Regions from separate parts of the Homo sapiens genome. Here regions 1, 2 and 3 are each linked to region 4. The links come from fine-mapping of genetic effects on gene expression. A gene starts in region 4. Each other region holds a variant in brackets. All regions are shown on one strand. Distances are between the middles of the regions.

Evidence for each region. PIP is the estimated chance that this variant, and not a neighbour inherited with it, causes the effect.
Region 1: its variant is fine-mapped to the expression of GLT1D1 in whole blood (TOPMed, PIP above 0.99).
Region 2: its variant is fine-mapped to the expression of GLT1D1 in unexposed skin (GTEx, PIP above 0.99).
Region 3: its variant is fine-mapped to the expression of GLT1D1 in whole blood (TOPMed, PIP 0.92).

What each region holds. Positions count from the first base shown.
Region 1 is chr12:128,986,131-128,994,235 of GRCh38, forward strand. No RefSeq gene overlaps it. Among named protein-coding and RNA genes, the nearest start is that of TMEM132D-AS1, 120 kb to the right of the region's middle. The variant C/CA (reference allele first, on the strand shown) is at 3,552.
Region 2 is chr12:128,908,533-128,916,637 of GRCh38, forward strand. It overlaps GLT1D1 (glycosyltransferase 1 domain containing 1), which reads left to right. Exons shown (of 12, transcript NM_001366886.1): 5 at 3,892-3,928; 6 at 6,401-6,457. Among named protein-coding and RNA genes, the nearest start is that of GLT1D1, 59 kb to the left of the region's middle. RefSeq lists an enhancer at 7,964-8,083. The variant T/G (reference allele first, on the strand shown) is at 3,364.
Region 3 is chr12:128,969,440-128,977,544 of GRCh38, forward strand. The region is part of intron 11 of GLT1D1 (glycosyltransferase 1 domain containing 1); the gene reads left to right. Among named protein-coding and RNA genes, the nearest start is that of GLT1D1, 120 kb to the left of the region's middle. RefSeq lists enhancers at 2,283-2,784, 2,785-3,284, 7,118-7,622. The variant C/T (reference allele first, on the strand shown) is at 4,433.
Region 4 is chr12:128,849,337-128,857,441 of GRCh38, forward strand. GLT1D1 (glycosyltransferase 1 domain containing 1) reads left to right here and starts at 4,142. Exons shown (of 12, transcript NM_001366886.1): 1 at 4,142-4,313. The coding sequence starts at 4,246. LOC100128276 (a long non-coding RNA gene) reads right to left here and starts at 3,759. Exons shown (of 3, transcript NR_148996.1): 1 at 3,740-3,759; 2 at 2,857-3,016; 3 at 1-124. RefSeq lists silencers at 4,121-4,220, 4,411-4,610 and an enhancer at 4,472-5,123.

The DNA of each region.
Region 1 (8,105 bases), 140 kb after region 4:
ATGGTCTTGAACTCCCGACCTCAGGTGATCCACCCACCTCGACCTCCCAAAGTGTTGGGATTACAGGCGTGAGCCACCGCGCATGGCCCCCACATTTTCTTTATTGAGTCCTCCATTGATGGACACTTAGGTTGATTCTGGATCTTTGCTATTGTGAATAGTGCTGTAATAAACATATGAGCACAGGTGTCTTTTGGGTATAATGATTTCCTTTGGGTAAAATGTTCAGACATTTTGTGTGTAGTTTTTAGTTTGCTGACGTACAGGTTTGAATGACTCAAAAATACATTTCAGGATAAAATTGAGATACTATAACCTTTACATATTGAGGGAAATACTTTCAATAAAAATAACACTAAGCCAGGTGCAGTGGCTCATGCTTGTAATCCCAGCACTTTGGGAGGCTGAGGCAGGCGGATCACTTGAGGCCAGGAGTTCAAGACCAGCCTAGCCAACATGGTTCAAAACGCTGTCTGTACTAAAAACACAAAAATTAGCCAGGCATGGAGGCACATGCCTGTAATACCAGCTACTAGGGAGGCTGAGGAAGGAGAATTGCTTGAACCTGGGAGGCAGAGATTGCAGTGAGCCAAGATCATGCCACATCACTCCAGCCTGGGTGACAGAGCAAGACTGCCTCAAACAAAAACAAAAACAAAACACAAACTATATATACATATGTGTGTGTGTATATATAAATACACATATGTATATATACATATATGTATTTGTAAGTATACATATATACACACTATATACACACAATATAAGATATGCATATATGTATATATACACATATATAGATATATACACATACATGTGCGTATATATAGATATATACACATACATGTGCGTAGAGATATATACACATACATGTGCGTATATAGAGATATATACACATATACATGTGCGTATATATAGATGTGTGTATATACATGTGCGTATATATAGATGTGTGTATATACATGTGTGTATATATAGATGTGTGTATATACGTGTGTCTATTACACATGTGTGTATATGTACATGTGTGTATATTACACGTGTGTTTATATTATATATACACGTGTGTGTATATATATATCTCTAATAACTTAGTGTCGTGTAGCAGAGAGGCATTGCTGACACTCGGCTGAAGGTCCGAGTGATGAGTTGAGGCTTACAGCTTCTCCTTAAATACCAGTGTTCAGCCCTTTCCCACACTCTCACAGTAAAGCAGTAAGACAGAGTACCTTTTCCACCTTCAAAGGTTCATCGTGCATCTTAAAGTTTAAAAAACCAGACTGCATAGGCTCCCCTTGTCAATGGGATTACACGGGCACAGCCAGACCCCTTGCCAGCCCCACAGATCTGGAAAATGTGGTGAAGACTGCACTCCCTGTGTACGGTTAAGGATGGAATTTTGAAAACATTTGAGCTCACAGCAGGTGTCTTGGTGTCGTGTTAATTGCCTTCCTCTTTTGGCCTCTGCAGTAGTACTTTGCATGGAGCTACAGGACCTCTTCCCTTGAAGGGTCCCTGGTGGTTGAACTTGTCTTCTTTAGCATTTATCTGGAGCTTCTTATGAGACGGGAGAGCTAGCTCTTCTTATCCATTTTCTGATGAAGAAACGTTTGTCTTCTCCTTCCTCACCTCCCTCCCTCTCTCCTTCTTTCTTTGTTTCCTTGCATCTTCCCAGTCCCCACCCTCACTTCCCCTCTCTGATTCTAATGTCACTTTAAAGGGTCAGTCATTGGTAGGAGCTGATGTGGGAATGCTGTGAGCAGAGATCCCCGTACCTGGGATCAGCCGTACCTGGCAGGACCACTTGAAACAGTGGCTCCCAGCCTTGTCTTTGAGAAATCTGGATGCTCAGGTGGTGTCCCTGACCAAAGGCATCAGACTCTCAGGGGAGACCCAGGCCCGAAACACCCCAGTGACCCAGTGTGCAGCAGAAGCTGACAACTGCTGACTTACCTCATCCCTTCGAATACGGACCAGAGTTTCATGGAAAACAAGGACAGTCTAAGAAAAGGTTGGATTGTGACTTCATACTGAAAAATGAAGCCCAAAATTATGAAAATAGGTTAAATCTGTCCTATGTTGAATAAAATTTATTTACGCAGGCATAATAGAAACTGAGTATACAGGGGCTCATGCCTGTAATCCCAGTGCTTTGGGAGGCCAAGGTGAGAGGATCGCTTGAGCCCAGGAGTTTGAGACCAGCCTGAGCAACATAGTGAGACCCCATCTCTATAAAAAATAGCAAAAAATTAGCCAGACATGGCAGCGCGTGCCTGTAGTCCCAGCTACTCCAGAGGCTGAGGAGGGAGGATTGCTCCAATCCAGGAGTTTGAGGTTGCAGTGAGCTATAATGGCCCCATTACACTTCAGCCTGGGTGACAGAGCCAGACTCTGTCTTTATTTAAAAAGAAAAGAAAAGAAAAGAAAAGAAAAAGACATTAAAGACCTTATAAGGCTGAGAGATACTTCTTTTTCCTTTTCTTTTCTTTCTCTCTTTTTTTTTTTTTTTTTTTTTTTTGAGACGGAGTCTCGCCCCGTCGCCCAGGCTAGAATGCAGTGGTGTGATCTCGACTCACTGAACCTCTGACTCCTGGGTTCAAGCGATTCTCCTGCCTCAGCCTCTCAAGTAGCTGGGACTGCAGACAAGCACCACCATGCCTGGCTAATTTTTGTATTTTAGCAGAGACAGGATTTTGTCATGTTGGCCAGGCTGGTCTTAAACTCCTGGCCTCAAGTGATCTGCTCACCTCGGCTGCCCAAAGTGCTGGGATTTCAGGCATGAGCCACTGTGCCCAGCCAGGCCAAGAGATATTTCATACAACTAAGTAAGAAACAACATGCCAGTACCTCATCGATACCCCCCAGAGATTCTCTCCTTCCTTTGAAATTGAAGTTTTCTTCCGCGAGTCCTGTCCCCCTTATCCTCCTTCTGGGTTTTTCTTCAATTGTTAGCCGGTTTCCAGCACTGCCAGAGCCTCACGTGCCTGTGGTCCAAGTAATTCTCCAACATCGATTTCACCAATTTCAGCAAATCCTGCATCTTTTGCAACCTTTGCAATTTTACTTTTCAGTGTATTTACATCCTGTTAGTATTTTAAACATTTTACACACCTAAGAGTCAGGAGGAGGGACCGACTTGACACTGCTATGGAGTGGGAGGGTATCAGGATGACATTTGGTTAAAACAGACATAAGATCCATAATAAACAGTGGCTTAAGCAAAAGAGGATGCATATTTTCTCTCTCTCAAGAGATTCACCGAGCAGGTATGGGGCAAAGATCCAGGCTCTTTCCATCCTGTTCTTCCATCCTCAGTTTGTGGCTGTCTCTACCTCATGGTGCAAGGTGGCTGCCCATGCTCCAGCATCATGCCTGAATTCCAGGCTGCAGGAAAATGGAAGGCAGGAATGAAGACATCTCTCTCCTTCCTTCCAGGACAATCTCCACCTCCACTTACATCCCATGGCCACACCTAGCTGCAAGGGAATTTTGGAAATGCAGGGTATTCTGAGCAGCCATGTGCCTGGTTGAAAAGCTGGGATCTATGA[C/CA]AAAAAAAGGGAGAATGCATACTTTAGGGGCAGCTTGAAGTTGCAGCTGCTATTGAGACAAACTGGTTTTAGTGTCTGCAGCAGTTACAGGCATCCTACTTTTTATTAATCACTAAATACCTTTTAATGCCAAGAAAACTGTTTTCCAGCAGGTTTTAATTTAGCCTTTGAGTCCACTGTGACACAGCTCACCTTTCTTCCCCAAGATCCTCATTTGTAAAATGAGTCCTCAGCCAACTGCTTCTACTGATTAGTGCTTCAAACCCTGCAGCTCCTAAATTAAAAACTCAGAGTGAAAGAGTGCAGGGGTTTTCATCTGAATCTCCTCAGATGTCCCTCCGTGTTAAGTGAGACACAATCCTGGAAAACACAACACAATTAAATGTATCGACTATATATAATTTTGGCTTTTATTTATTTATTTATTTTTATTTTTTATACAGAGTCTCACTCTGTCACCCAGGCTGGAGTTCAATGGCATGATCTCAGCTCACTGCAACCTCCACCTCCTGAGTTTAAGTGATTCTCCTGCCTCAGCCTCCCAAGTAGCTGCGACTACAGGTGGGCACCACCATGCTCAGCTAATTTTTGTGTGTTTTTTGGTAGAGACAGGGTTTCACTGTGTTGGCCAAGCTGACCTCGAACTCCTGACCTCAAATGATCCTCCTGCCTTGGCCTTCCAAATTGCTGGGATTACAGGTGTGAGCCACTGAACCCGGCCTAATTTTGGCCCTTGTAAATGTTTTTATGACTACCCTGAATGACTAAGTACATTGTTGTTCCTGTTGGAGGGTCTTGGGAAATAGAAATCTCTTCTGAAGGGATCCATGAGTCAGAGCTTGACTAAAACAAATCAAGAATTGACATTAAAAATGAGATAAAATGGAATTCCATCTTGTGCAGAGTGTAGGTTCTAGAGGTAGCATTTAAAACCAAAATCTCGTATAGTCAACATTCTCCTTGAAAACTCCCCACACGCACGGCACGTCTGATCGCATATGTACAGCCCTGCACATCATATCCTATGCACAGTCAAGATTTTCAGCCCCTGAGCTCAGTGGAAGAAAGTCAACCTCTGACTGTCTGACTCTCCAAGCCATTCTGTTTTGAGGTACAGAACTGAGTCTCCAGCAGGAAATGTGGAAATATTCCCATTTTCCTGTGGGGTTTATTTTATCCTGTTTGACAGTGGCTATATAACCATTCATTCATTCATTCTACAAATTTTTATTAGAATAATTGGCTCAGGCTGTGTTTTGGGGGCTGGGGTTACCTTGCAGGGGTGCTTCACAATTAGTATTAATTAAATCGTGTTAGAATGCATTCTCCTTTTTTTTTTTTTTTTTTTTTTTTTGAGACAGAGTCTTGCTCTGTCACCCAGGCTACAGTGCAGTGGCATGATCTTGGCTTACTGCAACCTCTGCCTCCCAGATTCAAGCGATTCTCCTGCCTCAGCCTCCTGAGTAGCTGGGATTACAGGTGCCTGCCACCATGCCAGCTAATTTTTGTATTTTTAGTAGAGATGGGGTTTCACCATCTTGGCCAGGCTGGTCTCAAACTCCTGACCTTGTGATCCACCTGCCTTGGCCTCCCCAAGTGCTGAGATTACAGGTTGAGCATTAATGCATTCTCATGGAAAGTGTTCCATAATGTTACAGAGTCATCTCTAATGAAGAAGGTAGGATCAAAAGTCATTGAGAACATGACCTAAGAGCTATTCAGCCTCAACAATTTTTCAGGATAAAAACCACATCCAAGAGGCTGCAAGTAATTTCTAAGAGAATCTTTGTAGAGTAAAGGAATTTCTGGGAAAAATGAATACAAAAAAGGGGGAGGGGTTTATTGAAAGGAATGACTTCATCTGCCTCTGCGGCCACAATCTATTTTAAAGAGATTATTTTATAATTTACTTCTTTCAGACTCATAAATAGTCCTTAAAAATTTAGGCTGAGAGAATTGTCCTCCTAAAATATAACATCATTCTGCTAAATTACAAAAGCTTCAAAAGCTTTCTCCTTAGAAAAGAAGAAGAAAAAAAAAACAACCATAGTCATGCCTTTTTCATTAGAGGCCTTTAAAATCACCCTAAGCACTTTGGAAAGCTTCAACTAGTAGAACAGTCATGCTTCGTTGAAAACAGATTGTTGTCTTTAGCATCTGTATTTTCATTTTACCATCTAATATAAAAATATGGTAGAAAGGTTAATAGCCAGACGTTTACAAGAATCCAGAGATCGGGGTGCCAAGAAGTATAATTCAGCGGTCCCCAAACTTTTTGGCAGCAGGGACCGGTTTCATGGAAGATAACTTTCCCATGGACTGGGGTTGGGGGTGGATGTGGTTTGGGGATGATTCAAGTGCATTGCATTTATCGTCCACTTTATTATTATTACATTGTAACATATGATGAAATAATTCTACAACTCACCATAATGTAGAATCGTTGGGAGTGCTGAGCTTGTTTTCCTGCAACTAGATGGTCCTATCTGGGTGTGACGGGAGACAGTGACAGATGATCAGGCATTAGATTCTCATAAGGAGCACACAACCTAGATCCCTCACATGTGTAGTTCACAATGAGGTCCATGCTTCTGTGAGAATCTAATACTGCTGCTGATCTGACTGGAGGTGGATCGTGGTAATGTGAACAATGGGGAGCGGCTATAAATACAGACGGAGCTTTGCTCACTCGCCTGCTGCTGCACAGCCCCGTTCCTAACAGGCCACAGGCCGGTCATTGATAGTACAGTCAACTATAATAGGTTTCTGACTCAGTATTTGGTGTAAATTCCTTGATTTTAAAAATATATGGAAAAATAGCTTACAGAGTCTAATGACCTGCTGGATTTGGATTCTGTGAAGAAAGTGTCCCTCTCTGTGATTCTCTGTCGTGTCTCTCCCGACGTCTAAATGCACTCAAGGGCTCAGCCATTCTGTAAACAACTGCCAGTCATGAGAGGATTTGGAACAAAGCCGTGTTTATGAATTAGACACCGTCAGATGGGGACAGTGCTCCACTTCTGTCCACCACAGCAAACATTAACTGAACAGCTACTCTGTGCCAGGCAGTGCTCAGTGCTGACAACATTGAACTTCCCGAGCTCTGTGTTGCCTGAAAAATACCTGGGTTCATTCACCTGGCGAGTTACAAATGACTCCATCACAATGTGGGTTTTGATCAATAGGAGTTTTACTACTTGACTGAAGTAAGGAGAGCCCTGGGAGGGTTCCTCAAAGCAGCGTCTCCGTGGGGGGAAGTGACAGGAGGGCTTATGGGGTCGGGGAGAGGGGAGATGGTATGTCATTGCATGTAGAGCTTGGGCCCCAGCTGCAAAGACACAGTGAGTCTCATGTCAGCACAGGTCACATGTGATGGTAATGAAGCTGTAGCTGCCCCTGGGATGGAGGCTCTAGCGTGGCACTGAGGAAGGCTCAGTCAGGCTCATCTATAAGTTACTGGGGCTGTCAGGAGAGGGTTCCAACCAACAAGGTGTCCGCATTCCACCCAGGGTTTGGGGAAGAACAGGCTGTGGGGCAGGAGACTGTAAAACTGGCTGATGCTCAAGTGGATTAATTTCCCACAGTCCCTGGAGATATTCCCTGTCTGCTGACACCTGGAAGACAGCAAAGGTCAGGACACCCCTCACTGCAAAGAGCCCCTTCCCCGAATGGGAGGAGACTCACAGATACCCTTATGTTTACCTGTGACAAGGCCAGATACAGCCCCTTCAAAATCTCAATCTTTGCCTCATCAGTGACTGAGCTGAACTGTACCCCCATGGTGGACCAGAATAAAATGCATGTGAACTAGCCAGGCACAGTGGCTCATGCCTGTAATCCCAGCACTTTGGGAGGCTGAGGCGGGCAGATCATGAGGTCAGGAGATTGAGACCATCCCGGCTAATGCGGTGAAACTCCATCTCTACTAAAAAATACAAAAAATTAGCCGGGCGTGGTGGTGGACGCCTGTAGTCCCAGCTACTCGGGAGGCTGAGGCAGGAGAATGGTGTGAACCCAGGAGGCGGAGCTTGCAGTGAGCCAAGATCGCTCCACTGGACTCCAGCCTGAGCGACAGAGTGAAGACTCCGTCTCAAAAAAAAAAAAAAAAAAGGCATGTGAACCAAACTTTATTAAAGCTCCTCTCCATCTCCCAGGCCTGCGCCACTCCCCAGCCTGAGCTGCAGATGGCCCCCAGCAGATCCTCCTGGGAGCAGATGGCTCCAAGGCAAAACTCTGGATCTGCTGTCTGGTTTTTGCCACCCTCGCCCCAGCTCCTCACACTGTACTGGCTCTTCCTAGCTTGTTTTTGCCTCCCCCCAAAAAAGGAAAGTCCAGGCTGCCTGACCCTGGATACTGGCAGAGCTCACAGTTAGAGCCCTCTCTCCACATTGCCATCTTCCCTTCCTGCCCCCTTAGGGATCCGTTAGAATAAAGTCCCTTCCAGAGTCCAGATTTGCTTCTTATTGGACAGTGTCTTATCCACAATAGTTCAGTTAATCCTCAAACCACCCCATACATTTACAAGTGAGAAAGCCAAGGCCCTGAACCTGGTCC
Region 2 (8,105 bases), 59 kb after region 4:
TTCTTCTTCTTTTTTTTTTAATTGTTCTCCTACCCAAGGCGGAAGACTGGCAGCTCAGCTAGGTGCTGGGCTCTGTATGGTGGCTGGCGTTTCTGTGGGACACGGAGGGCAGCAGGAAGGAAAATAAACACGACAGGCCGGGCGCGGTGGCTCACGCCTGTAATCCCAGCACTTTGGGAGGCCGAGGAGGGCGGATCACGAGGTCAGGAGATCGAGACCATCTTGGCTAACACGGTGAAACCCCGTCTCTACTAAAAATACAAAAAATTAGCCGGGCGTGGTGACGGGCGCCTGTAGTCCCAGCTACTCGGGAGGCTGAGGCAGGAGAATGGCGTGAACCCGGGAGGCAGAGCTTGCAGTGAGCCGAGATCGCGCCCCTGCACTCCAGCCTGGGCGACAGAGCGAGACTCCGTCTCAAAAATAAATAAATAAATAAATAAATAAAAAATAAACACGATAGGTCCAAGCGTCATTCCACTGGGTTTTGATATTGGCTTCGCAGCTAGTCTCCCGTTTCTGACCTGTGCCATCCATCTATAATGAAGCAGGACACCAACGCTTCTTCCTCATATTCCAGAATCCCAACTCTTGAAAACCTCTTTCTTTGTTGTTAAAATGTTGTGAAGTGTTAGTGTCTGGACATTTTTTTTCTATGAAAAATGATTAAAGTACTTCCTAGTAAAAAAAGAAAAGAAAAGAAAAGAAAAATTGTTCTTTGTGTGGTTGGTTCCATTGCAGGAGTTCAGTGGCAAGGCTGAATCTCCCCACACCTCGCCTTCCTTTTGAATATTACTTTCTTTTTTTTTATGCACGATAACAGATTTCTAAGGGAAAAGAGTAGAGGGAGGAAAAAAGACACTGTGACCTTGAAAAGTGCCCAATTTCTTTGTGTTTTGTGGCATAAATATATTTTGCAACTTTATATGTATGGGCCATCATTTCTTTTAAGCAGTTTGTAATCGTTTTACAAGTAGTTTTTACAAAGCCACAGTCTGAAGTTGTATTATAATTTCAGAACAAAAACTATTATTTTTGTCATCTGTAGAGCATAAAATTGTGCCTGTATTTCAAAAATAATCTATTGTGGTTTCCATTTGCAGAAAGTTTAATTTTAGAAGGTGAATCTCTGGCTTATGTTTAGTCAAAGAATGGGAAGTTCTTTGGTTGATGTTATTTCCAGCATGAAAAGGTATCAGTTAGTCCTTGGGTCTGTTAGAAGTCCATCTATTTATAGGTATCTATCCAATAGGATCCTGGCTTTTTATATCCAGTAATGAGCCAAAGAGGTAACAGTTGCTGATAGACACACCTCAGTGTTTGCCATTGTGTGCACTGATGAGCTAATCTGCAAGGCAGGCCGTACACAAGGACTTTGACTCATGTTATTTCAAGGCAGAGAGAACAATAATAAATATTGAGCAAAGAAAGCTAATTTGTATTTGTTACACTTTCATATAGAAAATGTTTTTCAAAATCAATATAAGCCAATTGGCTTTTGCCAGATTTCTTTTATTGCAATGATTACAAATAACTCAGGTCCAGACTTCCTTTATACTGCAACTTTATTTCCTCTGTTTGCCTGGATGAGATCTGAAAATACCATTTATGCAACGCTTTTCAAATGATTAGAAAAATGATGCTCAGAGATGTGGGAAGATCAGCAGATAAGTCCAGAAATCTTCACTTTCAGTCAATTCCTTCTGCTGACAGAGCTGAGATACAAGTTTAACTCTTTTTTTTTTTTTTTTTTTTTGGTGGAAAAAGGAGTTTCTTGACAGGAACATTTTGAGTTTATGTATTGCTAATTGCAGAGCCTATTTCCAATGAAAATAGTGACAAAAACTATAAACTCTATGTTGCCTCACCTTATATTTATCTAGGATTATGCTGAATCTGTTATTGTCAAACACTTATATTAAGTTATATTAAGTTAAATGCCATGGTGTTCTATTGTGAGTGCTTTACCATCCATCTTCAAGATGTTGCCAGGCGAGTGTTTTGGACACAGGGTTGTTTTAGGAAGAAACACTCCAAGCCTCCACTACACTCCAGTAACAGCTCTTCCAGCTTTCCAGGGAAATTATAATTCAGCATAAGGAGTAGTTTAGGGCTCTGAACTGCAATTTCTAATTTCAATGGTCGCCTTTAGCCTTTTTTTTTTTTTCATTAAAGTTAATGTCTTTTTTAACTGGTAGAGAAGAGGTCTTTGAAACTCTCTCTTAAAGGTTTACTATTTTAAGGGCATTTGGAATACCACACATACCTGCTTGCACGATGAAGTGGGGAGGAGAGGCAAGACTTCTGGAGGCTTGAGATGCTTCCTGTAGTGAAATACAAAATGCGATGCTAAGGACAAAACCAACACCATACCGAGCCTCGTGTGTACCCACCACCTTCTTTATTTTTTTTATTTTTCAGGCAGAGTCTCACTCTGTCGCTTAGTCTGGAGTGCAGTGGCGCAATGTCGGCTCACTGCAACCTCCGCCTCCCGGGTTCAAGCGATTGTCCTGCCTCAGCCTCCCAAGCAGCTGGGATTACAGGCGCATGCCGCCACACCCGGCTAATTTTTGTATTTTTAGTAGAGACAGGGTTTCACCATGTTGCCCAGACTGGTTTTGACCTCCTGACCTCAAATGATTTGCCTGCCTCGGCCTCCCAAAGTGCTGGGATCATATGGGTGAGCCACCATGCCTGGCCGTGCCACCCACCTTCTGCCTGGATGCTGCCTCTACCAAACCTTCCCAGGCTTGGGGAGGGCCAGTCTCCTTCTTCCTGTTGATTGTCTCGCCCTTGGCAGGGCTACTTCACTTTAGCTTGTGTCCCAAAATATAAAACTGAAGTGGGGACAACGTCCAACGTGGATCAGCATACCCCATGCAGTGCCGAGGGCTCCCTGGTGCCCTAAAGACCACACTGTATCCCTACACCGAGGAAGGACAGGGGTGTGTCTTCTGTGACCTCCAGGGATCTAGCTAGTTCAGTCACTTAATGCATTGATCAGGCTTAGGTCACATGACAAAAAGACATCCATTTTTGGACTCTTTCACCAAAATGACGGCCTGTTTTGATCACTTGAGAGAAACCGTCCTTGGCATGGACTTGCTCCATCACTCTGCTCCTGCCTCCACCTTTCCATCTAAACGTCACCTTAAAAATATTCCTGCCACTGTTTCAAAATGAACTGGAGAAATGGATTCAATTTCTCTCTAGTAGTTTTGTGACATTCCACCAGAAAACATGGCAAGGAATAGTAAGTTGATATCTTGGTACAAATATCCATATCCGTCATGCAAGGGCCGCCTTTTGCTTGGTGCCAGGGAGGTAACTTACCAGACGCTTTCCACCCGGCTGTCCTCCCTTGCC[T/G]GGAAGGATCTGCCTCCTGGGGCCTGTCTTTGGTTTCCCAACATATTGGCAGCTCCTCCTTCTCCTCCTGCTCCTTTCTTCTTTTTTTCTGGGGGTGGTGGAAGCAGTCTTCCCCTCAGGGATGCATAAGCCATAACATGCTTCCCCAAACCTCCACCTCCACGCAGGGGCGGGAGCTGCATCAGCTGGGCCGGCACTGGCATGCTCTCTGGCTGAACTTCAGTAATGTCTCCACTAATATAGCAAGTGTAAAATTGCAAAATTGCATTAGGCCTCATTTAAGAGACTTTTTGTGTGTGTGCTTCTTACCTTATAGATGCTGTATTTTTAATGGCAAAACCTATTAAAAAGCAGAAGTAATGCTTTGCTCTTACAGAGTAATAAGTCTATGAGCAGCTGTGTAGATGATTCTCAGTGATGTTTTCCAGGACGGCTTTTTTTGTTAATGACCTTCATTTTATTTCTAAAAAGCAGTTGTCATGCACTGTCCAATGTACTTTTCTTTTCTCTCTCCCCTCCTTTCAAAAGCCGCATGCTAAGGGTAAGGTCTATGTCCAGAGTCAAGGTAAGATTTTTAAAATATTTATTTACTTATGTACAGGGATAGAGAATGAATATATCAAAATAGATGCATATTTATATGTGATAAATATATATATATATTTAAAAGAATAAGTTTGCATCCTTAAGAGACACATATTGAGATGTTTATGAAGGAGATAATATGATTTCTCAGATTTACTTAAAAATAATCAGTGAAATGGCTACTTTTTTTTTTCTTTTTTGAGACAAGGTCTGGCTCTGTCGCCTAGGCTGGAGTGCGGTTGTGCGATCTCGGCTTACTGCAACCTCTGCCTCCTGGGTTAAAGCGTTTCTCTAGCCTCAGCCCCCCCAGTAGCTGGGACTATAGGCAGGCATGAGCCGCCATGCCCAGCTGATTTTTTTTGTATTCCTTGTAGAAATGGGGTTTCGCCATGTTGCCCAGGTTGGTCTTGAACTCCTGGGCTCAAGCAATCTGCCTGAGAATGGCTACATTGTTAAGATTTTTCTAACATTAGAATAAAAGATAAATAGGAGAAATTATAAAATAATGATTTAAAATGCGGATCACTTAACATTTTCTGCCAGTAGAAGTACGATATACTCCATCAGCAGTATGTTTGGAAAAAACAAACCAAACCAAATGCGGAGCTTCTGTTTCAGCTGACTTGAGTTGGGGGAACTGGAACTCTTCTCCCTTCATACTCCTCCTTCCTCCCTGCCCAATTCTGCCCCTATGGTGGCATCTGAGGCCCTTCATCAAACCCTCTGAGGTTTAAACACAGTTTTTTGTTTTTGTTTTGAGATGAAGTCTTGCTCTGTCGCCCAGGCTGGAGTGCAGTGGCGCAATCTTGGTTCACGTCAACCTCCGCCTCCTGGGTTCAAGCAATTCTCCTGCCTCAGCCTCCCGAGTAGCTGGGATTACAGGTGCCCCCCCACCACGCCCAGCTAATTTTTGTGTATTTTGTAGAGACAGGGTTTTACTGTGTTGGCTAGGCTGATCTTGAACTCCTGACCTCAGGTGATCTGTCCGCCTTGGCCTCCCAGATTGCTGGGGTTCCAGGTGTGAGCCACCGTGCCCGGCCTCTCTAAACACAGTTTGTAAACCACTGTACTACATGATAGAAATAATGGAAAGACTAGATCCAAGGAAGAACATGTAATTGGCCCCAAGCTCAGGTTAGAACGAGTGCAGAGGCTGAGGCCAGGCGTTCGGGCCTCCTGAGGACTTCCATGGTGCTCAGGCGCACCTTAGTGAGGCACGGCATCCTGTCATCACCGTGTCCTTGCTGCATTGGCTTCAGTGACATTTTTAGCTGGTGCAGCAGGAAAAACCTGGGCTCTGAGGCAGCGCGTAGGTTTGAACACAGCGTCTACCACCTCCACCCTGCGCATTTTGAAGTGCGTTTAACCTCTTTGAACATCAGTGTCCAGCTGGATAAACTGGAGGAAGCAGTCTGCTCAGTGGGCCTTTAAGGGTTACAGTGGAGTATGGAAAGCGCCTACATGCAGTCGGAGCCCAGGGCTGGCTTGAAATGGGCGCTTGTTAAATAGCCGCTGTCAGTATGATTCAGTGTGAATAACGATTATGCAGGTGGATTTTGGAGGTGGTTAGATGACTTGATTTACTTACATTTTATAAAATTTCAAAATGTTTCTGTTACCAAGATAACGTGTTAGACGTTGCCTCTGAATTTCTAAATTGTAAAATAGTCATTTTTTTTTTCAGCAAAAATTAAATGTAACTTCTCTCTCTGAAGAAGTAATAGCCAACAGACCATCAGGCATGAGTTGGTGAGGGTTGAGAGTGGGAATTTTACAGGGAGGTATAATTTTCACATGGGGCTTAGCTGACAGTGTTTTTGAAACCTGTTACTTCCTGGCATTTTTAAGGAACTCAAGGTTTGTCTAACCCCTAACCCCGTTTGGGCCTGTCATGGATCCTGGGGCTGAAAGGGGTGCGTCTTTTCTCATGTGGAATCCATGGGCTCTTTTTAACCCTCCTGTGCTGAAGGATTCATGGGACTTCAGTGACACACTCAGAGCATCGAGCGGCTTTATAAAAACCAGGTGCTACTGTTATTTAAACTTCAACACAAGTGGGCCGTGTGTGGTGGCTTACACCTGTAATCCCAGCACTTTGGGAGGCTGAGGCGGGAGGATCACTTGAAGTCAGGAGTTCGAGACCAGCCTGGCCAACATGGTGAAACCCTGTCTCTACTAAAAATACAAAAATTAGCCGGGTGTGGCAGCGGGCGCCTATACTCCCAGCTACTCGGGAGGCTGAGGCAGGAGAATCGCTTCAAACCGGGAAGAGGAGGTTGCAGTGAGCAGAGATCGTGGCACTGCACTGCAGCCTGGGTGACAGAGCGAGACTCTGTCTCAAAATAATAAGAATAATAGTAATAATAATAATAAGCCTCAACACAAAATAACTCATTGTATTTCAGCAGTCGCTTCAAAGTGAACTTGCCCTTTTTTTGTTTCTTTGACCCAGGAATTGCAACAACACCAAACGCCGCTTTTAACTGGAATACCTTTCTTCAACGCTCTGGTGAGACATGAGATCTTCTTAGAGGATTTTGATGAAGTGCATCTTGTCAGTTACTTTCAGGAGCTTGTGACGTTCATGCGGTTTTGAAAAAGTGGTTGTCAGAGAGAACAAGGTTCATTTCCCTCTGTCTGCGGCTTCATGAGTAGTTTTATCCTTTTGAGGAACAGCAGGGCTAGAAAGCCAGAGAGACAGGGGCTCTGGCCCTTTCTGATGCTGTTTTTAGCACCTGCTTTCCAAATTTTCAGTATCATTTCCTGTGACATTTGTTCTTTATAAGAATAACAACCTCATGTGTTCATTTTATTTTACTTTACTAATTATACACGTAGTTAAATTACCATTGTAGAAAAATGAGAAAATATCAGAATATGCAACACATTTTTTTTTTTTTTTGAGATGGAGTCTCGTTCTGTTGCCCAGGCTGGAGTGCAGTGGTGTGATCTAGACTCACTGCAGCCTCTACCTCCCGGGTTCAAGTGATTCTCCTGCCTCAGCCTCCTAAGTAGCTGGTACTACATGCATGCGCCACCATGCCTGGCTAATTTTTGTATTTTTAATGGAGACGGGGTTTTGCCGTATTGGCCAGGCTGGTCTCGAACTCCTGATCAGGTGATCCACCCACCTCAGCCTCCCAAAGTGCTGGGAATCCAGGCATGAGCCACTGGGCCTGGCCAAAAAATGCAACAAAAATTTTAATCACTTGAAATTTCATCACCAAAAAGAAACTGCTATTAATGTTTGATGTGATCTTTCTCAACAATTTACATGTAAATAATGATGTTTAAAAGACAAAGTCAAGCTTCACTTACTACTCTAACCTGCCTTCTTTGCTCATTATGTCAGTAGAATAGAGTGAACTCATCCTTTTTTTAAAATAATTCTATAGTTTGTATGCAGTGAAATGCAGAGATCTCAAGTGTAAAATTAGGCAAATGTTTGACAAATGTATATACCCATGTGACAAATACCCCAATCAAGATAGATAACATTTCCACCACTCAAGAAAGTTCTCTCATGCCCTCTTCCATATTTAATTTCTGTCTCTTTATAGGCGATTCCTAGTCTAATTTTTCTTATCTTAGATTAGTTTTACCTGTTCTTGAACTTCATCTAAGTGGAGTCATGCATTGAATAATTTTTTGTATCTGGCTTTCTTTGTTCAACTAATGTGTTTGAGATTTATCCCTATTGTGTGTATCTGTAGACCTTTTTTCTTAGTATTCTATTTTGGAATGGTGTATTTCATTCCATATATCACAAATTGTTTATCTCTTCTTCTATTGATGAACTTTTAGCTTGTTTTCCATTTTTAACCGTTACAAATACATTTACTATGAATATCCTTGTGCAAGGTTTTTTGGTGACCTATGTTTTCACTTCTCTTGGATAAATGCCTCTAAGTCAAATAGCTTGACTATATGATTAACATTATAAAAAATATCCAAACAGTTCTCCAAGGTGTGCCATCTTACACTTCCACAGAAGCTGACAAGAGCTTCAGTTACTCCACATTCTTGCCCACCGGTGGAGTAGACAGTCTTTTCAATTTTAGTTGTTCTAGGGAGATAATGAAATGGTGTCTCATTGTCATTCTTCTAAGTTTCATTTCCCTGATGATTAATTTTGTTCAGCACCTTTTTATGTGCGC
Region 3 (8,105 bases), 120 kb after region 4:
CCAGAGGTGGGAAGAGAAGCCCCTGGCTGACTGTGCAGCCCCTAGGGCAGGTTTGCCCCGAGCTGGGTGTGCACCGAGCTGAGTGTGCACTGAGCTGCTGCGCGGCAAGCAGGGCCAGGACGCGGGTGAGCCACAAGGTGGGGCTCACTGCTCAGGCACAGAGGCTGGGCCATCACCAAGGTGCGGAGGCACTCGGGGCTCCTCCTGGCCGCCTCACTCCTGACCAAGCAGGGAGCATCCTGCTTGCATCGCGTCTGGAATTCTCTGAAAATACAGAGAGGGAAGAGGCAGAGAGAGAAGAGCTTCCTTCCCGCTGTGAGCTCAGTCCCCACCTCTGAGAACAGGAGGAGGCATCTCTGCGTCATCCTGACACTTGGCTCTCCACCATCTCCTGGGCCCTCGCGTGGGTGCACCTGTTGCTCTGCAAAGCCTGCTGGGCACCTGCCAGGAGTGTGAGCCCGCAGGCTCCAGCTGGGGACTGTGATTAGGGGAGGGGCCAGGCATGGAGAGACCCTCCCCTCCCCCTGCCTCTGCCTGTGTGCGCTTCCTGGAGGCCTCCTGGTGATCTGTGTCAGCCCTGACAAATGCAGTCCCCAGTCAGCGGGGTGCTTGCCTCACATCAAAACAACGCTGCTGTAGGAATCAGCTCCGAAGGCCGTTTCTGGGGTATCCTGGAATTCAGAAGGAAGAGGATGGTGACATGTTGGCACTGGTAGAAGCCGGGCCAGGGTCTGTGGAGGACCCCGGTGGGCTGCAGCCTTAGGGGTAATGCTGCAGGGGAAGGCCTGCTTGGAGCCTCAGCCCCTGCCTGTTGCAGGTGCGTGCACAAGCAGCTGGGCACACCGTCCTGGGTCCTGGGCTCCCAAGCCCGCCGCGCCCTCTCCCCTGAGCCCCACTTCCCATCTGTCCCACTTCTCCTGAGCTCTGTCTGCAAACGCAGCTGGACCCCATCTCCACTGCACTCCCGGACCGAGGGGCTGTAGGGTCTTGCCTGGGCTGTTCCAGCAGCCTCCTCCTTCCAGCCCGCCCACTCCCTCCCCGCAGCCACAGGCACCAAGTCAAAGTCCGCTTCTATCCACTGCAGCTGAGGACCCTCTGGTGGCTTCCCCTTTGCACCTAGAAGAAAATGCCACTGCTGGCCTGGCTTCTGAGGCCTTGCACAGCTTGCGCTGCCCCCTCCTCGTTCCAGGCTTCTCTGTCCGGCACCTGAGCTTTGCTCACCCTCTGTCTCTAACCGAGCTGCGCCCACGGCTGGCACCTCCTCAAATGTTTCTTGGTTGAAATCACCTTGGAAGGACTTTTCGTGGCCACCCACTGTGACTGGGGTTCCCATTTGGGTTTCCTCTGTCCCCGCACCTGTGTCTGTGTACACTGCACTCTTTGCCATCTATAAACACCAGTCCCCAGCCTGGAAGCTTCCCGAGGGCAGCAGTCAGGCATGTTTACTCATCAGCTGTCCCTCGCAGGGACTCTGATATGGACTGGGTGCTCAGTGAGTACTGGAAGGGATGATTATGCCCCGGCGTACAAGGCGCAACCCTTCCAGAGGGCGTGTTTTTTTATTTTCATCTGATAGTGAGCGATGCAGCACGCCACACACTTGTACTTTAACTGCTCTCATTTCTTTTTCTTTTCAAAGTCGCAGATGACAGCAGTCATCCCGCCCAATCATTGGCACCTGTCGGATTTTGTCCCCATGCCTAGCAAGTAGTCTCTGACAGTTTCATGCCAGTCACAGGTTCTGGTGCTGAGTGCCACGCGGCAAAACGACAGGATCGCCTACTCCTGCCTGGGTGCTTAGATCCCATGTAAATGCTTTTGGCTTAGAAATTGTCTTTCTTTTGCCCTCCCTTCCTCCCTCCCTCCTTCCTTCCTTCATCTCCCTCCTTTCTTCCTCCCTCCTTTTCTTCATCTGTTCTTTGCTCCCATTTTCTTTGATTTCTTCTCCCTCCCTCCTTCCTTTCTCCCTTCTTCCCTCCTCCCTTCCTCTCCTCCTCCCTCCCTTCCTCTCTCCCTCCATCCCTCCCTCTGCCTCCCTCCCTCCCTCTCTCTACCTCCCTCCCTCTCTCCCTTCCTCTCTCCTTCTGTCCCTTTCTCTCTCCTTCTCTCTCTTCCTGTCTTTCTCCCTCCCTCCCTACCTCCCTCCCTTCTTCCCTCCTTTCCTCTCTCCCTTCCCCCCTCCCTCCTCCCTTCCCCCCTCCCTCCTCCCTTCCCCCCTCCCTCCTCCCTTCCCCCCTCCCTCCTCCCTTCCCCCCTCCCTCCTCCCTTCCCCCCTCCCTCCTCCCTTCCCCCCTCCATCCTCCCTTCCCCCCTCCCTCCTCCCTTCCCCCCTCCCTTCCTCCCTCCCTCCTCCCTTCCTCCCTTCTTTGCTCCCTCCCTTCCTCCCTTCTTTGCTCCCTCCCTTCCTCTCTCCCTTCCCCCCTCCCTCCTCCCTCCCTCCTCTCTCCCTTTCTGTGCGCCATTGACCTCATCGTTCCGCATTAGTGAGCTCAGCCTTCTTTTGAGTTTTGCCGGGAGAATCCATTGTTTGCACTTTATACGGGAGAATGGTCTCTGTGGTTTTCCCTGACTCTCTGTCGCACACGTCAAGGCTCCCTCTCCAGGGTCGCTGCCACATGTCTGAATGAGCAAGCTGTCCCTTGGGGATCTTGGGCTGCAGCGGAACTGGGCTGCATGCGGGGCAAAGCCATGAGACGACCAGGGTGCCAACAGGAAGTGGCAGCTGCTCTAATGGGCCCCATCACTTCAGGAGGGCAGCATTGGGAGACATTATTTCTCGCTCTTCTGGAGGCCAGAGCTGGTTGTTTTGGTCTGTGACCACCGCCCATGCGGTCACTCAGAGCCCAGGCTCCTTCCATGGCCTGGCTCCAGCTCCACGTGTAGGTAGCTGCGGGAGAGAGAAGACAGGGTCCACCATGGGAGGTATGTGTGACTTGGGCTGGAGGGAGCACACGCCCCTCTCTGCTCATGCTCCCTTGGCTGGAACCCAGTTACATCACACCTGCTGCTAGGGAGGCTGGGAATTGTGGCCCGGGAAGAACCGGGGAGCAACTGTGTGACTGGGTGCTCCTCCTTTCACCCCAAAGACTGAGGCTAACATGTTCTGGGAGGAAAAAAACACAGAAAACAAGACCCATCATAAGGAAGATGGCTAGCATCTGTTGAATGCTTGCTCTGCAGATACAAATGTGGATTATCTCGTTTAACCTGCACAATGACAAATGTGCTCTTATCAGCCCCATTTCCTAGATGAGCAAACTAGGCACAGAGGAGTTAACTTCCTCAAGGCCCAGAACCTGGTAAAAGGTGCAGCTGAGGTTCATACTCTGCTTTCCAGCTTTATTAAGGTCTGCTTGACAAATTTAAAGATTGTATACATGTATGGTGTATCACTTAGTGTTTCGCTGTGTGCATCCATTGTGCAATGATGAAATCGAGCTAATTAACATTTCCATCCCCACACATACCTTTTCTTTGTAATGAGAATATTTAAGATCCACTGACTTAGCAACTTTCAAGTATACTAGAGTCACCAGGCTGCCCCATAGGTCTCCAGAATGTGACCCTCCTAACTGAAACTTCGGAACCATTGACCAGTGTTTCCTTATTTCCTCTCCTGCAGCCTGCCAGCCCCTGGTAACCAACCTCCTACTCTGTTTCTATGAACTTGACTTTTTAAGAATCCACATATAGGTAAAATTATGAAGTATTTGTCTTTTCTGTTTTGTTTGTTTGCTTGGTTTTTTTTTTTTTTTTTTTTTTTTTTTGAGACTCGCTCTGTTGCCCGGGCTGGAGTCCAGTGACACGATATTGGCTCATTGTAACCTCCGCCTCCTGGGTTCAAGCAATTCTCCTGCCTCAGCCTCCCCAGTAGCTGGGATTACAGGCATGTGCCACCACACCTGGCTATTTTTTTTTTTTTTTTTGTATTTTTGTAGAGACGGGGTTTCACTGTGTTGGCCAGGCTGGTCTTGAACTCCTGACCTCAAGTGATCCACCCACCTCGGCCTCCCAGAGTGTTGGGATGACAAGCGTGAGCCACCACCCCAGCCTGCTTGTGTTTCTTTCCTCTCCCCCAGGCATAACCAGAACGAATGGCAGATTTACCGCCGCACTTTAATGGGCTGCTCTTTCCCTCCAACTTCCTCCTGCTCTAACCCGCCAAGCCGTCACACAAGCCCAGAGGAAGGTCTCCCGGTCCCCCTCTTCCCTCCCTTTTCTGCCTCTCACCTTCTTCTTTCCTTCAAGATGCCCACCTTCTCCCCACCAACCCCCAAAGCACACCAGAGCAGCAGAAGCACCTTTCAGCCAGCCGGGTGTGTGTTGAAATGGCTAGTGTTCTACTCGGCCCATCGTCTGGAAAGTGAGCGAATGAGAAGCACAGAAAATATTCCTGAAGTTGTTTTTAGCTTCATCGGTGGCTCCCAGGTTT[C/T]CCGTGTGTGTGTGTAGGGGGTGTGTGTGTAGGGGGTGTGTGTAGGGGGTGTGTGTGTGTGTGTAGGGTGTGTGTGTGTGGGGGGGGCGCTTGGTGATCTGTGCTCCACACCACATGCAGCAGCGGTGCTCAGAGGGGGACAGTCTGGGTCTAGATGCCTTTTCTGCCACTCAGTGATGTGTTAACCTCAGGCAGGTTCCCAGGTGACCTGGGCTCCCATCTCTTGATCTGTGCGTGTGGAGGGGGAGAGGGCGCATAGGAATAGTCCAAATTCCTAGTTCCTTTTCTGCAATTTCAAAATCCAAAAAGCGCTTGGAAAACATGCAGTCGGGACCCACCTGCCAGCTCTGTGCGTTTTTACTAGCAGGTACCTGGCTGATGGCCGGAGTCCTTGTTCACACGGACATCTACGGACCCACCCGGCTCACAGATGGCAAGGGCTCTTGCTCCCTCCTACCCCAGCCACAGCAATGCCTTTGAGCCACACTAACCCTGCATCGTGCATTTCATGAGCCACAGAGCCCCGGGAATGGCAGGAATAAAACACAGGTTCTCCGACGGTCAGTGACCCTGCTGTTAGCTACCCAGGTCTTGCACTGTTTTCCCTCCTCAAATAACAGCTGTCCTTTGACCAGCACAATCGACCTCTGCTGTGCAAACGCCAGAAGGGAAAGAGGAGTTTTACTGTCTCACCATCCATAAGACCACTCTTTTTCGTGAGTTTGGTGCCAAAACTCCTGTCTGAACTGATGTGAAGTCACCTAGGGCTGTTTGTCCTGCGTCACGGGACTATTCATACATTTTGATTAAGAAACACTGATCTGTTGTTGATGGGCATGGCCTTAGACCTCGCTGGAGATGATATGTAATAGAAGGCTATAGCAGCTGAATTACTAAAATCCCCCAGGTCCTGAATTCTGAAGCCTCATTCCGTGTACGTTTTTGAGCACTGGATGCATGTTGGCTGCTGTTGTTAATTTCTGGCTGGATCCTGACCTCCACTGGAGGCCCTTGGCCAGAGGCCAGCTCTCTCTTCGCTAAAGAAGTGTTGAAGAAAGAAGCATTTGCCCCTCATTGAGGCTGTTCTCCCCTCCACCAGCAGTGAAGATGAATCGGATGGGAATTAGCTTTCTCACCTGCTGGCTTTCCTTTGTTTAGTGCCCCCCCGCACCTGCACCTGCAAACCTCCTTCCTCATGCTACAGACTCCCACGCTCCGTCACTCCTGAGCACCCACCATGTCTGTGGGTGGCCTGTTAGATACACGCTCAGGCATTGTCCCGGCAAAGGGTCTGAGCACGGAGCCTCCCTGGCTCAGCGTGCTTACACAGGGCCCACTGGCAGATTCACTGGGGGTCAGTCTTGGAATGGACGTCAGACTCAGGCATCATGACTGGGGGCGGGGGGAAGTCAAGCATCGTGAGTAGGGGTCAGAGTCCCCACCCTACCACCTTGTCCTCTGGCTCTGTATTGAGTAATTGCTATGCACAGGGCTCATTGACTGAGAGGTTATTTCTGACCCTACCCAGTTGGCTTGCTCAGTTTCCATCTGCAGAAGATTCCCATAGCTGTTTTTTTGTTTTTTATTTTTTTCTTTTGAGACGGGGTCTCACTCTGTCACCCAAGCTGGAGTGCAGTGGCGCTATCTCAGCTCACTGCAACCTCCAGGTCCCTGGTTCAAGCAATCATCCTGCCTCAGCCTCTGGAGTAGCTGGGACTACAGGCGCGTGCCACCACGCCAGGCTGATTTTTGTGTTTTTTAGTAGAGACAGGGTTTCACCATGTTGGCCAGGCTGGGCTTGAACTCCTGACCTCAAGTGATCCACCCGCCTTGGGCTCCCAAAGTGCAGAGATTACATGTGTGAGCCACAGCTCCCGGCCCCCTAATGGCTGTTTTTGATACTTATTTTAAAGTGAGCCCCTAACTGTAACCATGATGTTCAGGGTGAAATAACTTCAATTCTCCTATAAATCAATGACTACTCTGTGTTTTAAGAGGTGGGTGGAAGGTTCATGCTGAAGAGTTTAGAGAAGAGCTTCGTGTTCTTTTGCATGGTCCTGACTTTACCCGATGCAGGAGCTACTGGGAGAACAATCAACGTACGCTGGCAGTCGGGGTGATGACATGGTCACATTGATGTGTCGTCAGCGGCGACAGTTTGACAGTTTGGATAGTGCCATAAAATGTGACCAGAGGGATGGTGCCGTGTACAAGAAAAGTACCACAGTCAGATGCACGTTCCTCTTCTAGGCATTGAGGTCTTGAAGGAGGAGCCTCACAACTTGCAGTTTTCAACAAAATAAATCTGTCCCATGACCAAATAATTTTTGGAAAATGAGGCAGGCACGGCAGGTTGCCTTAGACCTGTCAGGCTTCCTGCAATCCCCTGGGGGCGCTGTTGGACACTGTTAGAAAACGCTCATTCCTGAACCCCACCCTCCACCCACCCAATCAGTATCTCGGGGACTGAGGGCGGGTATGTGGGGCGTGTGTGTTTTACAAGCTCCCTTAGAGAGTCTTACAGCAAGGTTTGAGAAGCAAAGCCACCGTCGAAGCCTTAATTAACTCAAAGCCTCCAACCAGAAAAGCCCGAGGAAAACCCGAGATCTTTAACGACGGCGGCCTGCGCCAGCCTTGAGACACTTCCTCGTCAACGTCTCCCATCGACAAGCTGTCGTATTTGAAGCAGCGGGAGAGGAGCTTCGGGGCTGTTTAGTTTAACACACCAAGCCTGAAATTCAAGAGTTTTCCTGTGATTGACTGTAGCTCATCTTGGAAAAATAAGTATATATCACTTGCTGAAGGTTGTCAGAATGTAATGCTCTTTAAAACCGTAACGTTTTAAATCTGCCAGCCCCAGCATGCATCCTGCTCAAGGCTTTTGCTTCTCGTGGAGGAGTTTTTTTCCCCTTCTGTTCTATGGCTTTGAGGTGACATCATCATGAGAAGGATTGTAATGAGGTTCTAATATTCATTTTATAAAATGGGTACTGGCTGGGCGCAGTGGCTCACACCTGTAATCCCAGCACTTTGGGAGACCAATGAAGGTGGATCACTTGAGGCCAGGAGTTCAAGACCAGCCTAGCCAACATGGCAAAACCCTGTCTCTACTGAAAAAACAAAAATTAGTCGGGCGTGGTGGCACAAGCCTGTAATCCCAGCTGCTTGGGAGGCTGAGGCAGGTGAATCGCTTGACCCCGGGAGGCAGAGGTTGCAGTGAGCCGAGATCGCGCCGCTGCACTCCAGCCTGGGCGACAGAGAGAGACTCCATCTCAAAAGCAAAACAAGAAAACAAAATGGCCACCACTTCTTTTCCTCTGGATCTTGGTGAAACCTCAGGGGGATGGAGCAGGTCAAAAGGATTCAATGAGAAATGCTCCACCAGCAGCTCCAGACTCCTCAGAAAGGAAGAAGCTCTGAGGACGGTCATCAACTAATTGAGTAATTACTCTCTAAAGACAAAACCATGCTCTTTTGCATGATTATTATTATTATTTAACATCACAAGTGCATTACCTGAGCCAGCGTTGGCACACCTGTGGCCCTGGACCTACATCTGGTCTGCACATGTGTTTTGTTTACTTTGCTGTATTCTTAAAATATTGAATTACCTGTTGATATTTAACATGGAACACTTTTACATAAATATCCAGAATTTAGACCTCTCTTGGAA
Region 4 (8,105 bases):
TGAAATATTGACGACATTCCTTAATCATTCTGACAACAAATTTCCTTCTCCATCCCCAAATTTCCAAAAGTCCTCTGGAGAGCAGTTCTGAATCTGGTTCAACCACTCATAAGCTGTAGAGAGACTAGAAAAGAGATAATCACAGAGTCAGGCAATTTTTACCTGCAAGATTTTAAAAAACAGAGTTTTTAAAGTTCTTCGTAGTTTCTTATATTACTGAATTCCTTCCTTCCTTTCATCCCTGCCTCCCTCCCCATCCCTCCTTCCTTCCTTTGTTCCTTTCTTTCTTCTTACTTTTATTACTTCTTTTGTATCATCAAGAATGAGTGTTGAATCCTACTGAATGTTCTTATTCCACCCATTGAGAGGGTCATATGTATTTCTGTTACCGGAAAGGGGTCCTATTTCAGACCCCAAGAGAAGGTTCTTGGATCTCACACAAGAAAGAATTCAGGGCGAGTCCATACAGTAAAGGGAAAGCAAGTTTATTAAGAAAGTAAAGGAATAAAGAATGGCTATTCCATAGACAGAGCAGCCCGAGGGCTGCTGGTTGCCCATTTTTATGGTGATTTCTTGATGATATGCTAAACAAGGGGTGGATTATTCATGCCTCCCCTGTTTAGACCATATAGGGTAACTTCCTGACGTTGCCATGGCATTCCTAAACTGTCATGGCGCTAGTGAGAGTGTAGCAGTTGAGGACAACCAGAGGTCACTTTCATTGCCATCTTGGTTTTGGTGGGTTTTGGCCGGCTTCTTTACTGCAAACTGTTTTATCAGCAAGATCTTTGTGGCCTGTATCTTGTACCGACCTCCTATCTCATCCTGTCACTTAGAATGCCTTAACCTCCTGGGAGGCAGCCCAGCGGGTCTCAGCCTCATTTTACCCAGCCCCTATTCAAGAGGGAGTTGCTCTGATTCAAATGCCTCTGCCATTTCCTCTTTTAATCTATTAATTTAGATTGCTATGGCAGAGGTGACTTACTGCAAACCTATTCTGCCACTTTTCTTTAGTAACCACGATTGTATTTAGGTGGCAGTGTACCCAGTTAATAGACCGCATGTCTTAGCCTCCTTGGATGCAAGAAATGGCCACGTGGCCAACACAATAAAGGCATAGGGCTGTTTGCATTTTTAGGAAGACACTTTAAAATAAAATACACCATCTGGAGTGCACCACTTTTGCCTTTCCTTCCTTCCTGCTGCCTGGAATGTTGATGTGATGGGTGGAGCTGTAGCAGTCCTACTCCTTATCAATTCCTTGATAAGGTGATCTTGAGACTAGAAGCTAAACACTAGCATGATGGAGTAGACAGAGGAAAGTCTGGGTTCCTGGTGATGGTACAGCCACTATATTAGGCTTGGGCCACCTTCTTCTGAACTTAATTTACGTAAAAATAAACTTCAAATTTTTTCTAAACACAAGAATACAGATCGAGGTTATCAAGGAATTGAAGTGAGCCTTCAAGCACTGTGTGAAATGGCACATTCAGATTTCATCTTAAGCAGGCAGCTGCTTCCCAGCTTCAGTCAGCCACAGGATGGTGGCTTCATTTAATCAGATCTCTCATTTTTTAACAGATATCAGAAATTCCAACTTCTATATGAAAGCTCCCAATTAAAAAATGGTGGCTTGGCCAGGTATAGTGGCTCACGCCTGTAATTCCAGTACTCTGGGAGGCTGAGGTGAGTTGACTGCTTGAGCCCAGGAGCTCAAGACCAGCCTGGACAACATAGTGAGACCCCACTTCTACAAAAAATACAAAAAATTAGCCCAGCATGGTGGTGCACATCTATGGTTCCAGCTACTTTTTTGGAAGGCTGAGATGGGAGGATCACTTGAGCCCAGGAGGTGGAAGCTGGAGTGATCCATAATCACACCACGGCACCCCCAGCCTGGATGACAGAGTGACACTGTCTCAAAACAAACAAAAAATAATAGCTCAGCTTTTATGAAAAACACGGTGTAGCCTAAATACATCTAAGGATGATATTGAGCCCACAAGGCTGCCAGTTCAACTCTCCTTAGGGAGGTTCCTTTCTGGGCTCATGCTGAAGTCGCCTTTGTAAAATCAGAAATGTATCTGTTCACATTTAGCTTTTAATATCCCATGGGCAAGGTGAAATAGGGGAAGATCATGGGCAAGTGCCCCCCTCTACTTCTGTATACCACACCAGACACTGCGTTTTATTGCCTCTTCTTGGTGTGTAGCAAATATATCAGGAGTCCACTCAAAACTTATTTATTTATTTAACACTGAGTCTTGCTTTACTGCCTAGGCTGGAGCGCAGTGGCATGATCGCGGCTCACTGCAACCTCCGCCTCCTGGGTTCAAATGATTCTCATGCCTCAGCCTCCCAAGTACCTAGGACTACAGGCTTGTACCACCATGCCCATCTATTTTTCTATTTTTGGTAGAGACGGGGTTTTGCCATGTTGGCCAGACTGGTCTTGAACTCCTGGCCTCAAGTGATCCACCCACCTCGGCCTCCCAAAGTGCTGGAATTATAGGAGTCAGCCGCCGTGCCCGGGGTCAAAACTCTTTTTCTAAAATGTCGTTAGAAGGGGGTTGTGACAGCTCTGTGCAACTTGTCCCCTTTCCTGTTTGCTTATGTAATTCTGTTGGAAAGTATTAAGTTGTTTAGCAGAATGATAATATTTTCAGATCGCTTTTGTCCTTTAAAAAGGATGTGGCCTGCCTGCCTGGTGCCTGGGAAGCTGAAATACCAGGAAGAAGAGCAAAATCCTGGGTGTTTTTTTGAGAGTGAGAGGAGGACAGGATTTTGATTGTTCTACAATGATATACAACTCTTCCCTACTCCATGCCACACTGAGAGGCAGAGTGGTGGACGTACCTGGGAGAAGCCTGCGGAGCCGAATGTGCCCTCCAGGATGGACTTTTATATCTTGATAAGCCTGGGGGTCACCATGCTGCGTAGGGAGGCCGGAGACCTGCCACTGACGGTGGTTATCCCATGTCATGGCTTTCTTCATTCCCACTTTACCTTTTTGAGGCTGGAAGGTATTTAGGGGATGACAGAAAATCAAGTTTGAAGGTCAATGGAAATATTGGGCACCCACTAGAATGTCCCACATCTGTAAATACATGTGCATCTTTGTAAACACTTAACAGCTGTTTTGGGGAGTGCTTGTTTAAATCCACAGATGGCATTTTGCCAGAGGCCTCCTTCAGTTCCCTATTTCTCTCACTCAAGGTATCCTAGTTTGGAGATCCAGACCAGGTGCAGCCCATGTACCCTGATGAACCCCAGGTTCCCCTCTCCAACATCTTTCTCACCCGACAGGTGCGGCCCTGAAATGGGTTTCTACTGTCTCCTCACACAGTCCCCATGTTCCCCTCCTCGGGTTAGTTTTAGGGTAGTCTAGCCTGGGAAGGAATTTGGGACTGATCATGCCACGTTCCCTGGAATGGGACTAGAAAGGAATCCTGGGCTTCGTGCGGACCAAGGCCCCACTCAGGTTGTCATGGAAAATGAGGCTGAGAGCCCCTCTCTGCAGCACCCTGTGGGACGGAACCCGAGGTCTCTGCTGGTCCCGGTGGGCACAGACCTGCAGCCAACCCGGTGTTCCGTGAAGCCCTGATTTCCCAATGAAGCCCATGGAAGCCATCACTGGTTTCCATGGGAGCGGACCATGGCCACCCCTGCTCCTGTTCCCTGTGGGAAAGGACCAAGGCCGCCCCTGGTCCTGGTCACTGTGGGAAGGGACTGTGGTCACCGCTGGTCCTGGTCCCCTTGGGAGGGACTGTGGTCACCGCTGGTCCTGGTCCCCGTGAGAATGGTCTGTGGTCACCGCTGCCTGTTCCCTGTGGAAGGGAACGTGGTCACTGCTGGTCCTAGTCCTCTTGGGAGGGACTGTGGTCACCGCTGGTCCTGGTCCCCGTGTGAGGGACTGTGGTCACCGATGGTCCTGGTCCCCGTGGAAGGGACTGTGGTCACCGCTGGTCCTGGTCCAGGTGGAAACAGACCGCGGCTACCCTGGTGATGGACCCCACGGGGCACACCCGCGCCACCCCGCACCCAGGGCTCGCGCCGCCCGAGGCCCCCGGTTCCTGTCCCCCTCCCCGCCTGGCGCCGGAACCTGCGAGCTGGGGCGCGGCCTCGGGGAGGGGCGGGCGGGACAGACCCAGCCGCCCCGGCTCCCCCGCCGTCCGCGTCTGCGCCGGCCCCGGGGCCTGGTCGGCGGCGGCGGGGCCGGTCGATGGCCCGGGCGGCGGCGGCGGCATGCGGCTCCTGTTCCTGGCGGTGCTGCGGCCACACACCGGCAACGCGGTCACGGCCCAGCGCGTTCGGTAGGTGCAGGGCGCCGGGGCCTACGAAGCCTGGGCCGGGGGCCGGGGGGCGGGGACGCGGGACCCGGGGACGCGGGGCGCTCAGCCAGGCCCCCTCCAGCCGCGCCGGGGCCGTCCCGAGCCGCGCGCACAAACGGATGGGCCGGTGCCGCCTGCCGGGCGCGCGGGGGTCGGTGCCTTCTGCGTGGCGCGCGTGTCCCCGGGTCTCCGTGCGGCCGGCGCATTGGCCTCGCGCTCTCCGGAGGGGACTGAGCAGGTGAACAGGCCCGGAGCCTGTCGTGGAGGGGCCCGGGAAGGCCTCGCTGCAGAAGCAGGATGGGAGCAGGATCCGCAGGGATGCGCAGCGGGGTCCGCGGAGCTCCCGGCGGGGGCGCGTTTCCAGGCCGGGGACCGCGGTGCCAGCCCTGCCCTCGCGGATCGGGTCTCGGCTGTGTGCCGGCGTCCGGGGTCCTGTCCCCGAAGTCCCTTTCCCACCTCCCCTCTGCCCTGTCTATTCTCGTCTTCCTGGCTGGTTAGCTCCTTCACACTCATCTTTTTCTGCCTTTGTCTTATTTGTTTACTTGTTGGTCTGTGTTCTGGTCGCTGGAACGCAAGCCCGGCGGGGGCCCGGGGAGGGGCCGCCGCGTTAATCCCGCCGCCTCCCACCCGCACAGCGGGCGCTCGGCCTGTATTAGCCGGATAAACATATTCCTTGAGGCGAAGCCTGGGAAGTGCCAGGATTAGAGCCTGCAGCTTAACAGAAGCCGTGTGTGTGTGTGTGTGTGTGTGTGTGTGTGTGTGTGTGTGTGTAAAAGCGGACTTGCTTCATGAAATTTCCCGATTTACTTCCCTTCTGTGGGCCTGTTTCCCCATCAATTTATTTTTTTGAAATGGAGTCTCGCTGTGTCACCCAGGCTGGAGTGCAGTGGCGCAATCTGGGCTCACTGCAACCTCCGCCTCCTGGATTCAAGCATTCTCCTGCCTCAGCCTCCCAAGTAGTTGGGATTACAGGTGTGCACCACCACGCCCGGCTGATTTTTGTATTTTTAATAGAGACAGGGTTTCACCATGTTGGCCAGGTTGGTCTCGAACTCCTGCCCTCAGGTGATCCGCCTGCCTCGGCCTCCCACAGTGCTGGGTTTACAGGTATGAGCCACTGTGCCCGGCCTCCTCATCATTAAAATGAGCAATTGAGACTCCACCAACACTTTCATGTCCCTTTCAGCTAATTTCTCCTAAAGATCATAAGCAGAAATGACCAAGAGAGGATCCATCAGTTTTCTGAAATTTGCTGGAAAATTTACACTCAGGTTTCATGGTGCAGGTTTCTATTAAATAGGTCAGTGATGCTCTGCTTGGGTTTAGCAGTGAGGAGCCCTTTGTGTTCCTGGCTCTGTTGGATGAACCAGCATCCCAGTATGGGAGAGGAATGAAGGAGGTGATTTCACATAGGGATTAGTGCTATTAAGAAAGCAAAACTAGGAGGCTGAGGCAGGAGAATCGCTTGAACCTGGGAGGCAGCTGTTGCAGTGAGCCAATTGATCTGGGATCACGCCACTGCACTCTAGCCTGGGTGACAGAGCCAGACTCCATCTAAAAAAAAAAAAAAAAAAAACAACAACAACAACAAAAAAAACAAAAAACCTAGGGCAGGCTTTCATGGCGGCTCAAGCCTGTAATCCCAGCACTTTGGGAGGCTGAGATGGGAGGATTGCTTGAGCCCAGGAGTTAAAGACCAGCATGGGCAACATGGTGAAACCCTCATCTCTACAAAAAAAAATTTAAAAATTAGCTGATGTGGTGTGTGCATGCCTGTGGTCCTAGCTACTCAGGAGGCTGAGGCAGGAGGATCAGTTGAGCCCAGGAGGTTGAGGCTGCAGCGAAGTGACATTGCACCACTGAACTCCAGCCTGGGTGGCAGATCAAAACTCTAAAAAATAAAACAAAACTGTTAACGGAAAGAGGTCCTGATCCAGAACCCGATAGAGGGTTCTTGGATCTTGCACAAGCAAGAATTCAGGGCGAGTCCTTAAAGTGAAAGCAAGTTTATTAAGAAAGTAAAAAAATAAAAGACTGGCTACTCCATAGACAGAGCAGCCCCAAGGGCTGCTGGTTGCCTTTTTTTTTTTTTTTTTTTTTTTTGAGACAAAGCTTCATTCTTTCGCCCAGGCTGGAGTGCAATGGCGGGGTCTCAGCTCACTGCAACCTCTGCCCCCCGGTTCCAGCGATTCTCCTGCCTTACCTTCCGGAGTAGCTGGGATTACAGGCGCCTGCCACCACACCCAGCTGATTTTTGTATTTTTAGTAGAGACAGGGTTTCACCATGTTGGCCAGGCTGGTCTCGAACTCCTGACCTCACGTGATCCTTTGGTCTTGGCCTCCCAAAGTGCTAGGATTACAGGCATGAGCAACTTCGCCTGGCCTTGGTTGTCCATTTTTATGGTTATTTCTTGATGATATGCTAAACAAGGAGTGGATTATTCACACCTCCCCTTTCCAGAACATATAGGGTAACTTCCTGGCATTTCCATGCATTTGCAAACTGTCATGGTGCCGATGGGAGTGTAGCAGTGAGGACAGCCAGAGGTCGCTCTCGTTGCCATCTTGGTTTTGGTCGGTCTTGGCTGGCTTCTTTACTGCATCCTGTTTTATCAGCAAGGTCTTTATCACCTTGTATCTTGTGCCGACCTCCTATCTCATTCTGTGACTTAGAATGCCTTAACCATCTGTGATTGCAGCCCAGTAGGTCTTAACCTCATTTTACCCAGCCCTTATTCAAGACTGAGTTACTCTGGTTCAGACGCCTCTGACAAAACTAGATAAAGTGATTGAGAGGCATGATGATGGCTGAGATGCTTTAGAGAATGTGGTCTGGGAGGCTGTCTCCGGAGATGACATTGAAGCTAAGACCGAAAAGAGGCTGTCACTGAGATCTGGAGGGATGGTCCCAGGAAGGAATAATGGTGAGAACACAGGTCCTGAGCTGTGTGAGAAGCAGAAAGGCAGCCAGGGTCACTGGACTATAGAGAGTTTGGGGCCAGTGCTAGGAAATGAGTCAGAGAGAGAGGCCAAATCTGGCTTGTACATGTGGTGGGGAAAACACTTTGTGCTTAAGAAGTAATTACCACTAAAAAAAACAAGAAAACAAAAAAAGATGGTGAAACCCCATCTCTGCTAAAAATAAAAAAATTAGCCAGCTGTGGTGGCACAGACCTGTAATCCCAGCTTCTCGGGAGGCAGAGGCTCAAGAATCGCTTGACCTGCAAGGCGGAGGTTGCATGAGCCAAGATGGCGCCACTGCACAACAGCCTGGGAGACAGAGAAGACTCCGTTTCAAAAACAGAAAAGAAAATCAAAAACAATGTTGAGTGACCGAAGAACCTGAACGGGCACAGAGTTAGAAGCTTCAGGCAAAAAGGAAATATTACCTGTTATTTAATATTTTGCTCCTAACTTGAGCTGTAAACCCACATCTTCCAAGGGCCCAAACTCACATCCACCCACAAGGTCACGTTACTTTTGTCCCAACTCAGAGGTGAATTAATAGAAAAAATAACTATGTTAGCTGCCGTCCTGAGATTCACTCCCCCATCATTCTGTTGGTGGTGCACTTTTGAAAGTGCCTGTCTTGCTAGGCCTTGGGGCTACAAAGGGGAAGGAGGCGGGCAGGGTTTATGCAGAAGGTTGACTTCAGCTAAACTGGAGTGGAGGGCCATTTAGTCACTTCGTTCTTTCTTTTCCTGGCTGTGCAGAAGCAGAATAAAGGCTGCTATTCAGGCTTTGATGTTTATTCAGACCAGGCGTTTGTTGTCC